Regions from separate parts of the Homo sapiens genome. Here regions 1 and 3 are each linked to region 2. The links come from fine-mapping of genetic effects on gene expression. A gene starts in region 2. Each other region holds a variant in brackets. All regions are shown on one strand. Distances are from middle to middle.

Region 1 (4,089 bases), 130 kb before region 2:
CCCATCAGACGAACAGCGGAGCTCTCGGCAGAAACTCTACAAGCCAGAAGAGAGTGGGGGCCTATATTCAACATTCTTAAAAAAAATAATTTTCAACCCAGAATTTCATATCCAGCCAACCTAACCTTCATAAGTGAAGGAGAAATAAAATACTTTACAGACAAACAAATGCTGAGAGATTTTGTCACCACCAGGCCTGCCCTAAAAGAGCTCCTGAAGGAAGCACTAAACATGGAAAGGAACAACCGGTACCAGCCACTGCAAAAACATGCCAAAATGTAAAGACCATCAAGGATAGGAAGAAACTGCATCAACTAACGAGCAAAATAACCAGCTAACATCATAATGACAGGCCCAAATTCACACATAACAACATTAACTTTAAATGTAAATGGGCAACATGCTCCAATTAAAAGACACAGACTGGCAAATTGGATAAAGAGTCAAGACCCATCAGTGTGCTGTATTCAGGAAACCCATCTCATGTGCAGAGACACACATAGGCTCAAAATAAAGGGATGGAGAAAGATCTACCAAGCAAATGGAAAACAAAAAAAGGCAGGGGTTGCAATCCTAGTCTCTGATAAAACAGACTTCAAACCAACAAAGATCAAAAGAGACAAAGAAGGCCATTACATAATGGTAAAGGGATCAATTCAACAACAAGAGCTCACTATCCTAAATATATATGCACCCAATACAGGAGCACCCAGATTCATAAAGCAAGTCCTGAGTAACCTACAAAGAGACTTAGACTCCCACACAATAATAATGGGAGACTATAACATCCCACCGTCAACACTAAACAGATCAACGAGACAGAAAGTTAACAAGGATACCCAGGAATTGAACTCAGCTCTGCACCAAGCAGACTTAATAGACATCTACAGAACTCTCCACCCCAAATCAACAGAATATACATTTTATTCAGCAGCACACCACACCTATTCCAAAATTGACCACATACTGGGAAGCAAAGCTCTCCTCAGCAAATGTAAAAGAACAGAAATTATAACAAACTGTCTCTCAGACCACAGTGCAATCAAACTAGAACTCAGGATTAAGAAACTCACTCAAAACCACTCAACTACATGGAAACTCAACAACCTGGTCCTGAGTGACTACTGGGTACATAATGAAATGAAGGCAGAAATAAAGATGTTATTTGAAACCAATGATAACAAAGACACAGCATACCAGAATCTCTGGAACACATTCAAAGCAGTGTGTAGAAGGAAATTTATAGCACTAAATGCCCAAAAGAGAAAGCAGGAAGATCCAAAACTGACACCCTAACTTCACAATTAAAAGAACTAGAGAAGCAAGAGCAAACACATTCAAAAGCTAGCAGAAGGCAAGAAATAACTAACATCAGAGCAGAACTGAAGGAAATAGAAACACAAAAAGCCCTTCAAAAAATTAATGAATCCAGGAGCTGGTTTTTTGAAAAGATCAACAAAATTGATAGACCGCTAGCAAGAATAATAAAGAAAAAAAGAGAGAAGAATCAAATAGATGCAATAAAAAATGATAAAGGGGATATCACCACCGATCCCACAGAAATACAAACAACCATGAAAGAATACTACAAACACCTCTAAGCAAATAAACCAGAAAATGTAGAAGAAATGGATAAATTCCTCGACACATACACTCTCCCAAGACTAAACCAGGAAGAAGTTGAGTCTCTGAATAGACCAATAACAGGCTCTGAAATTGTGGCAATAATCAATAGCTTACCAACCAAAAAGAGTCCAGGACCAGATGGATTCACAGCCGAATTCTACCAGAGGTACAAAGAGGAGCTGGTACCACTCCATCTGAAACTATTCCAATCAATAGAAAAAGAGGGAATCCTCCCTCATTTTATGAGGCCAGCATCATCCTCAAACCAAAGCCTGGCAGAGACACAACAAAAAAAAGAGAATTTTA[G/C]ACCAATATCCTTGATGAACATTGATGTAAAAATCCTCAATAAAATACTGGCAAACCGAATCCAGCAGCACATCAAAAAGCTTATCCACCATGATCAAGTGGGCTTCATCCCTAGAATGCAAGGCTGTTACAACATACGCAAATCAATAAGTGTAATCCAGCATATAAACAGAACTAAAGACAAAAACCACATGATTATCTCAAAAGATGCAGAAAAGGCCTTTGACAAAATTCAACAATGCTTCATGCTAAAAACTCTCAATAAATTAGGTATTGATGGGACGTATTTCAAAATAATAAGAGCTATCTATGACAAACCCACAGCCAATATCATACTGAATGGGCAAAAACTGGAAGCATTCCCTTTGAAAACTGGCACAAGACAGGGATGCCCTCTCTCACCACTCCTATTCAACATAGTGTTGGAAGTTCTGGCCAGGGCAATTAGGCAGGAGAAGGAAATAAAGGGTATTCAATTAGGAAAAGAGGAAGTCAAATTGTCCCTGTTTGCAGATGACATGATTCTATATCTAGAAAACCCCATTGTCTCAGCCCCAAATCTCCTTAAGCTGATGAGCAACTTCGGCAAAGTCTCAGGATACAAAATCAATGTACAAAAATCACAAGCATTCTTATACACCAACAACAGACAAACAGAGAGCCAAATCATGAGTGAACTCACATTCACAATCGCTTCAAAGAGAATAAAATACCTAGGAATCCAAATTACAAGGGATGTGAAGGACCTCTTCAAGGAGAACTACAAACCACTGCTCAATGAAATAAAAGAGGATACAAATGGAAGAACATTCCATGTTCATGGGTAGGAAGAATCAATATCGTGAAAATGGCCATACTGCCCAAGGTAATTTATAGATTCAATGTCATCCCCATCAAGCTACCAATGACTTTCTTCACAGAATTGGAAAAAACTACTTTAAAGTTCATATGGAACCAAAAGAGAGCCCACATCACCCAGTCAATCCTAAGCCAAAAGAACAAAGCTGAAGGCATCATGATACCTGACTTCAAACTATACTACAAGGCTACAGTAACCAAAACAGCATGGTACTGGTACCAAAACAGAGATATAGATCAATGGAACAGAACAGAGCCCTCAGAAATAACGCTGCATATCTACAACTATCTGATCTTTGACAAACCTGAGAAAAACAAGCAATGGGGAAAGGATTCCCTATTTAATAAGTGGTGCTGGGAAAACTGGCTAGCCATATGTAGAAAGCTGAAACTGGATCCCTTCCTTACACCTTATACAAAAATCAATTCAAGATGGATTAAAGACTTAAATGTTAGACCTAAAACCATAAAAACCCTAGAAGAAAACCTAGGCAATACCATTCAGGACATAGGCATGGGCCAGGACTTCATGTCTGAAACAACAAAAGCAATGGCAACGAAAGCCAAAATTGACAAATGGGATCTAATTAAACTAAAGAGCTTCTGCACAGCAAAAGAAACTATCATCAGAGTGAACAGGCAACCTACAAAATGGGAGAAAATTTTCGCAACCTACTCATCTGACAAAGGGCTAATATCCAGAATCTACAATGAACTCAAACAAATTTACAAGAAAAAAACAAACAACCCCATCAAAAAGTGGGCGAAGGATATGAACAGACACTTCTCAAAAGAAGACATTTATGCAGCCAAGAAACACATGAAAAAATGCTCATCATCACTGGCCATCAGAGAAATGCAAATCAAAACCACAATGAGATACCATCTCACACCAGTTAGAATGGTGATCATTAAAAAGTCAGGAAACAACAGGGGCTGGAGAGGATGTGCAGAAATAGGAACACTTTTACACTGTTGGTGGAACTGTAAACTAGTTCAACCATTGTGGAAGTCAGTGTGGCAATTCCTCAGGGATCTAGAACTAGAAATACCATTTGACCCAGCCATCCCATTACTGGGTATACACCCAAAGGATTATAAATCATGCTGCTATAAAGACACATGCACACATATGTTTATTGTGGTACTATTCACAATAGCAAAGACTTGGAACCAATCCAAATGCCCAACAAAGACAGACTGGATTAAGAAAATGTGGCACATATACACCATGGAATACTATGCAGCCATAAAAAATGATGAGTTCATGTCCTTTGTAGGGACATGGATGAAAGTGGA
Region 2 (4,089 bases):
TGAATAAATAAGCGGGAGAGTATACTTTAAAAGATATAAAAGTGAATATTTAATCACCTAAATGCTTTTTACAAAACAATTGGGAGTTCAATTACTATTTTTCCCCAAGATTCCCGAAGAGCAGGAGTCTGATTTGACTAAGATTTTTATGGTGCGGGATACTGCCTACAATTATATAAGAGTATTAATATTACAAAATCTAAGAGATCATCATTCTAGACTATTATGACCATCTCTGTATTCTTACATTTGCCAAGAGTATGTCAATCATTTTCCTAGTCTATATATGTCCGAGGTCACAAAAGCCAACACCATGTTTGGAGCCACATTTTTAAAGAATGTAAGTATTTGTGGGAAGAGGTTCATCAGGCTGTTTCCAATAGACTGACTTCCTTAACCAAGTCGGTCATAAAAAAGTATCTTAGCTCTTTAGCCAGCTAAAGGCCTAACTATGTGGGGAGGCAGAAGTGGGAGGAAAGAGTGCGGAAAATATGCCAAAGAGTGTCTTAGATTAGGACTCAGAGTATCAAAGGCCTTTATCATGGGTTCACATCTTAAAACTCCCCAAAGGGTGAGGTCTGCAGATGACAAATGCTTCAATTCATTGTTGTCATTTATTTATCCCTTTGCTCCTTATCCAACGAAGAACAGAAAAATGGTAAAACGAAAAGAGGGCACCATATTAAATGTCCCAACCTTGTTTAACCAAAGGCACATTCAATTTGAAGATGGTCCCATTTTTACACCCTTCACTCAGTCAGCAAGGACCTATAAAATGGGCAAAAGAATCCAACAGAACAAACTATGAGAGAATGAATTTCTGTAATCCCAGCACTTTGGAAGGCCAAGGCTGGCGGACCACGAGGTCAGGAGATCGAGACTGTCCTGGCTAACACGGTGAAACCCCATCTCTACTAAAAATACAAAAAATTAGCCAGGCGTGGTGGCGGACACCTGTAGTCCCAGCTATTCGGGAGGCTGAGGCTGGAGAATGGCGTGAACCCGGGAGGCGGAGCTTGCAGTGAGCTGAGACTGCACCACTGCACTCCAGCCTGGGCGACAGAGAATGAATTTCATGAACTGTTTTATTAAACTGATGATACTGTTCACAAAGTTACTTTGATGTTCAGCAGCTCCTAATTGGTTTCTAAGTTGAAGACAGAGTGACTTAAAGATCTACTGTTCAGTGAGTTTCCCACATCCAATCTCCCAACCCTATCTAAAGGTTCTGGTAAAATCAAAAGAGATGATGGTAAGGATGCAAAACTAAAGGAAAATTCAATCTCTTTGAACATGAGTATAGTCAAGTCCATCCTTACAAAAACTCTACAAACAGGAAAGTAATTTTAATGCAATTGATTTAGCAAATGTTTTTCACTGGCAAGATCACATGAAAATGTGATTTCTCACTCAAGGACCGCGGAATTACCATAGCTGGTTAATAAACAAGTACCAAGCATCATCTATTGTTAAGTTCCCGGCTCTGAGACTTTCTAAACGTTACTCGTCTGTGTTTACAACTTAAGTTTGACTGGGTAAAAACAAAGCCAAGTGTGGGTTTGAAATTTTAAAAACAGGCTCCTTCATCGATGGATTTTACTCTAACCGAAGTGTTTACACTTTCCTGTTCATTTCAACTAGTGGACTGCATGTCACTCCTGGGCCCCCGGCAGGTATCAGCTACCGTCACCACCAAGAACTTGGGCTTGGGGGGGAAGCGGAGAGGATGCGACTGCGAGTATCCAAGTGACCAAAACCAAACCCGGGCGCGGAGGCGAAGCCTGTCTGGCCGCAGTTCGGAAAGGGGCAGGGGCCCGGGTTTGGGGAGCCGGGCGCAGCCGCGTCCCTCCAGCCCCCGGCCGCGAGCGAAGCAGGGTGTGCATCTGCCAGGGAGCGTCGCTGGGCGGGGTAGGTCCCAAGGCAGAGGGAGAAAGGCGCGCCTCCCCACGGGTCCCGGCCCCGCTGTGGTGGGGAAAGGGGGACTGCGAGACTCCTCGATACCTGACACAGGGCCAACTCCTCCTTTAGGCTGCTCAGCTCTTCCTCCAGCAGCTGCGTCCGGGTCACCATCGCCTCCTCTACCGAGATGCCCTCTAGCCGTCTGGACCCCATGGGCGCGCTGAGGAGGGGAGCATGAGCCGGAGCTGCCCCCCCAGGCCCTCGCCGGCCCCCTGACCCTTCTTCACCCACCCAGATTTTATCACTTTCGTCCGCGACCACCTCCCGCGCTGCGCCGGCAAAACCCGAGGCCTCGCTGCGCATTGCGTGTACTTCAGCTCCCCGCCCAACACGTGGGGACCTGGGGCCCAGCTGTCGCGCTGGGGGCGAAGGGTGCGGTGAGGGAGGCGAACGCGCCGCCATGGCTGCGGCTGCTAACGGGTCAAGTTCCCTGTTGGAAACTCCACCTCCCTTTCCCCAACCCGGCGAGCCCGGAACGCCGAACCGCGCATGCGCGAGGCTTTTCCCGCCTTGGCCCGCGGTGTCCCGTGTTCTCTGGTCCTGGCCGGCTTCCCGCGGGCAATGCGCCCAGCGCGAGCCTTGGGGTACGCACGCGCCGTGGCCCGAAAGGGTAAGGCCGGTCCGCCGGGCAGGCCATCCCAGCGTCCTGTGCCTGAGTCCTTGGCCAGGATCGCCTGGATTTCCCGCCCACCTAAAGCCCTGCCTGCCACTTACATCCCACCTCTTAAAGCCTTCCTTGACAAGCCCCCAGCCCCAAATGATCCTTAACTGTGAAATCCCTCTCCTTCAAGGCCCCTGCCAACTCGTGTGACACGTTTCATTGACCGCCCTGGAGTGTCAGTTACACGGCTAATCTCCCCAGCCCTGTTGTAAGCTCCTTGAGGATCAAGGAATACGTTTTACACTTAAGTGTTTTCTTCACACCCCTTGGCAAAACTGCTTTAGTACAGCTGACATCCAGCTGACTAATGTCAAGGAGATGTGGAAAGCCTTGTGCTGATCTGGGACTATCAAGCAGGTTTCCAACTTGAATGATGATCCTTTGTACACCCTTTGTCTTTTGTTTTGCAGGAGTCATGATTTCCTTTGAGTTTTTATGTCAGCTTCTTTATGCGTTGGCTGGATATCAGAGGAAGTGTAGCCCACATTGCTGAACAGTTTGGGTCCTTGGAGCAGTTTGAAATCAGTAATTTGGAGCGTGGATGAAGAAACAAGACCTACTTTATCTTTTGTTCTCTTTTTTTTCTTTTTCTTCTGGCTTTCTTTATAAACTTCAAATAGGTAGTAATCGTATCTTTCTTTGCCCTTCAAATACTTTGTTACTATTGATAAGATTAATGAGATGCATATTGAGCTGGCACCAGAACATCCCTGAAAGTTAGAACTGCCCTCTTCTTCAGAAAGGGTTCCAGAATACTTGGGGAAAGCTGAGATGGGGGTTGAGAGCAGAAGTAGAGAGATGACCACTTTACTGTTAACTTCATTTAACCAAAATATCACCATCTCTGCATGAGAATCTAGTCAGGATGCCAAAAGACACCCTCCCAATTAGAATCCTGCCAAGGCAACCAAGATAAGTGGACTTCTTTCAAACTGAAGGTGAATTCCTCACAAAAACTTATTAAAGAGTACATTAGAAAAAGTATGTTTATAAGCCTGTCTTAGAACTAGCTAACCTACTGAACATTTACCATATGCTGAGTCCAGTGCTAAGCACTTTTCATATATGAACTCACTTAATACATATGTCACCTTCAATTAGATTATTATATATCTCCATTTTTACTAGTGAGGAAACAGACTTGCAAGGTTACTGTAACTTCTCTGAAGTGCCATGTCTGGTATCAGAAAAGCTAGGCTTTGAATTCACTGAATTCCACTTAACTCTGAAAACCTGTACTTTGATCGCTACCCTGTCTCCACACCTGTGACTTGAAATACAACATTTGGTCTTGATAGTCTGTGAGATTTCACTAGACTTAAGACTGGGAAGTCTAACCACATAAGTTACGTGTTTGGCCCCAAATCAGTATTAATGCACATTTTTAATTGCTGTATGTCATTCACTCAAAAGGACATCATTTCACCTGATCATAAAAAGATCCTTTTGAAAAGCAGTGGTATAAATAT
Region 3 (4,089 bases), 96 kb before region 2:
TTCTATTTTAATTATTAGGCCATATCAAAATGTGCCTGACATCAATCAAATAACATAAAAATAGATGCATAAAAATGGCTCCTCCACAATTTACAATCAATTTTTCTACTCTCAGCTAAGTCTTATGCCCCTTTAAGACTCGACTTCCACCTCCTCAATAAAAGCTTCCCTTACTATCTCAGTATTTTGTAATTCTTGCCATTTCTAAATTTTTGTATTATCTATATTATACATTTGATACACAACAAACTACCGAGTGTTGCTAATAATCTATCTACTCATAATATCTCCCAAACTAGACTGTTAAGTGTTTACAGATGAAATTGACACTAAATAATAAATTCAATAATATAAGCATTAAAACTGTTTGTAAAATACCCATAAGCCTATCCTTTGAAGGAGAAATGACAAAATTTGAGCATATCTTGTCTATTCTGAAATTAGTTAAACTCTAGGAAGAACCAAATGACAAGTTTTAAAAGAGTTTTCCCATTAAAGTAAACTAAACAGGCACTGACAATATAAATGATACCAATAGAGAGTCCTTTCATGAGAATTATTTAATAATTTAGATTTTGGCATTTGAGTGAACTTATAATAGTAATTCAAAAGGACAAACACAGACTCAATCTGTAAATTAAAAAGCATAATAAAATTTAAAAAATTGGTTAACCAAAATTATTATATTCCGATAATTAGTTTAATATTAAATTGCATAATATAGTTACTTATATCACAAAATCATTAAAGAAAATAAGTTAGACAAAGATTCTCTCCCAACACAAGAGCACTGATAAACTCTAAAAGTGTAAAAGTTTGTATAAATCAACATATTTTCCTAATAAAATATACCCTCTATAAATAATGAAAGCACAGACATATACAGTTAAAGTTCATTTTAAAATTAAGCTTTATTAATATTTTTCAACAAATCTTTCTGAATAGAGGCAGGTAAATTCTTAATAGCCTGGCTTGAGTTAATATTAAAACAGCAAACAGAATTCAGAGGAACCATAAAGCAATAAGGGATGACAAGAGAGAGAATGTCTGGAACAAATAATTTATTACAGATAAGCCATGAAATGAATGAATAATTCAAATAATGGTCAAGAGAAGTCTACAGAGTAACAAGAGAATAATAGTGAGTATGAAGCAGGCATAAAAATGGGTGGGGGGTAGGGAAGGGGCATAAGGCCCAAACCCCAAACTCTATTAGGCAATACTTGAGCATAGTTAATTTATTATTTATACTGACCTATTTTCAAAATGGACATGAAACTTTTAACAAAAAACAAACAAAGCAGTAATTAAACCACAATAACTAAAGCAATGATAAGTGGAGAAAAAGGAAGGGATAAAAGAAGTAATTGCAATTATGAAACAAAACTTCTGAGCTTCCTAGAAGGTAAGGAAAAAATGAAATATAATGTTAAAGAGCAATTATCATCTAATTAAATACAATTTACTAGGTTATCATAAGTCATGCTATCAAAGCACAATACTAGAAGGGAAATGTATTAACATTGTTTTATAACAGTGACAAAGCTAAAACATAGTCTTACCCAAAAAAAGGCAATTCTTTATACTAATAATTATTAGATTGCACCCTAGGAAAGTTTTTCTGCAAACAGCTAAAAAAAAACTGTGTGTGTGTGTAACTTTCTAGTAATTTCACTAGATACAGAAGTAAGAGTTAAATAAGCTGAAGGATTTGTCATTCTAATTCTTACTCTATCTCATAGCTATAAATCTTGAACATTAGGAGCTATTTAATATTTTTCAGTGGAACAACAACAATTCAATGGAGGGGGCTTCTGGTTTCCAGTCCAGCATATAAGGAACTTGGCAGTCATCTTTCTCATTTACACAATAAGAAAAAACGCTGAACAAACTGAAAATCAACAACTCTTTTCAGATCCATCAGAGAATTGAGACTATCCAGCAAACCAACGCTCCCAAAATTGAAGAGACAGACATGAAAATAGAGAGAATAACAACTTAATGGAACAGATGCCCAGGAGAAAAAACTTCCACAGGAGCCAGCACCAGGGTGGAAAAACTT[A/G]TTCTGTAATTAATGAATTACTGGAAGATCAATATGGACAAGTCTGAGAGTTTAAAACTCAAGGATGGCTCAGTCATGCTTGGGGGAAGGGGGCAAGCAGTACTCAGAGGAACCATAAAACAATAAGAGGTGACACATTTTCATAAGTTTAACCTACTGGACCCCTGTCATGTTGTCACAGGGAAGATCACACAATTATTCCTTCCTGTTTCCAGTATGTGGAGGGAGAAAGTAACCATCTTTAAACACACTCAGAGTATTCTTTTCTTCTTACCAAGGCCTGCCATCAAGAAAAACTATTTTACCAGAGCCCAGACTCATGGGGTTTTACCTGAGCCTAACTAACCAACTTGGAAAAGGGAAATACCCAACTCTAGCACCTTCTAGCCTTCCTGTCTCTCCTAAGGGGGTAAGGGGAGGGGGGAAACAAACAAACAAAAAACTAAGAAGCACTTTTGAAGGTCACAGTCCAGAAGCACAGCTCACCATGAAAAAAACCCAAACATAACACTACAGACCGCTTCCTCTCCTCCCCCAACACCCCACCACCACATCAATGGGACTATTGTATAATTAATAGGTTTGACCAAACAAAGCAGTTTAAATAGCAACTATTAAATTAAATTGCCTCTGTAGGTAGCTAACTGTAACCTAACAACATGTAAACACAACCCTACTTGAGAGTATATTTTTGTATAGTAGCCGAGTCTCAGCCAATCACAGCAGCCAAGCATTCAGCCAATCACAAGTGCAAATTGCCAAAACATGTCCAAATAAGGCAAACACCAAACTGTAACCAATCTGGCTATTTCTGTGTGTCACTTCCATTGTCTGGCTGTACACAGTCCCAGCCCACACTGCGGAGCAGAGCTCTATGAACCACTTTTGGTCCTGAGTGTTACCCAATTCGTGAATTTTTTTCAGCTCAATTAAACTCCATTGAATTTAATTTGTCTAAGGTTTTTCTTTTTAAGAAAACTGAATTATGCATATCAAGGATATTTATAAAATCTCTACAAAAATTCAAATAAAAGGCACGGATACCAGAGTTCTGCCTCTAACTCATACCACAGCGAACAGTGGAGACAGCCTAATATCTAGCCAGATAAACATAAAACCTATTTACCCCAGCTGTTTTTACCCATTTGGTTAATTTTATATGTCAGTTTGGCTAGGCTACCCATGGTACACACGTTCTTATCTAACACCAGTCTAGATGTTATTGTGAAAGTATTCTTTAGATGTGGTTAACATTTAAATTAATGGACTTTGAGAAAAGCAGATTACCCTTCATAATGTGGGCTGGCCTCATCCAATCAGTTGAAGGCCCCAAGAAAATACTATGATCCCCAGAGGAGGAAGAAATTCTACCTCCAGGCTACCTTAGGATTTGCAATGTAACATAAACTGTTCCCTAGGTCTCCATTCTGCCAGGCTGCCCTGCAGAGTTACTTGCCAGCCCACGACTGCGTGAGCTATTACTTAAAACAAATCAGTCAATCAATCAATCCATCCCACTATCTCCCCACCCCATAATGTCACATTTCTTCATTCCTTTCCATTACTTTGTCAGAATTCAATGATCTCTTAAAATTTCATATGCCATCCCTGTTGTATTGCTTTCTAAAATTCATTTTAAAACTTCATGACTGCTAAATGTAATGTCTTTTTCAAAAACCCACTCCATTTTTTGCAGCATTTTACGACAATGACAACATTTTGCTTCTTGAAACTCTCTCTTCTCAATTCATGAGATATTGCATTGTACTCTCTCCTTACTTCTATAAAGTCTTTTCACCTCTTTCACTACAATTTTTCCTTCCTCATTAAAAATATCAGTAAATATCTTGTTCTCAAAATTCTCACTGCTTAAAGTCTTCCCTCTAACTAAACTATTAAATACCCACATCTCCAGGTCAAAACTCCTTCATCAGATTCATGCTTCCAACAGTTTGCTAAAAATCTCTAAATGGAATTCCTATCAGCATCTCAAACACAAACTTTCTAAGAGGAGCTCAAAACCTTAC

Direction of the effects. Positions count from the first base shown, and alleles are read on the strand shown. Sizes are in standard deviations (SD) of each study's normalised expression. Not every link is listed here.
For the expression in monocytes after interferon gamma of the gene that starts at base 2,387 in region 2, allele G in region 1 goes with a lower level than allele C (moderate effect, 0.51 SD a copy in Fairfax 2014).

Evidence for each region.
Region 1: its variant is fine-mapped to the expression of CNTLN in monocytes after interferon gamma (Fairfax 2014, PIP 0.95).
Region 3: its variant is fine-mapped to the expression of CNTLN in pancreas (GTEx, PIP above 0.99).

The regions. Positions count from the first base shown.
Region 1 is chr9:17,263,336-17,267,424 of GRCh38, reverse strand. All of the region lies in intron 5 of CNTLN (centlein), which reads right to left. Among named protein-coding and RNA genes, the nearest start is that of CNTLN, 130 kb to the right of the region's middle. The variant G/C (reference allele first, on the strand shown) is at 1,933.
Region 2 is chr9:17,133,338-17,137,426 of GRCh38, reverse strand. It overlaps CNTLN (centlein), which reads right to left and starts at 2,387. Exons shown (of 26, transcript NM_017738.4): 1 at 2,002-2,387. The coding sequence starts at 2,361. RefSeq lists an enhancer at 1,543-2,106.
Region 3 is chr9:17,228,904-17,232,992 of GRCh38, reverse strand. The region is part of intron 3 of CNTLN (centlein); the gene reads right to left. Among named protein-coding and RNA genes, the nearest start is that of CNTLN, 96 kb to the right of the region's middle. The variant A/G (reference allele first, on the strand shown) is at 2,063.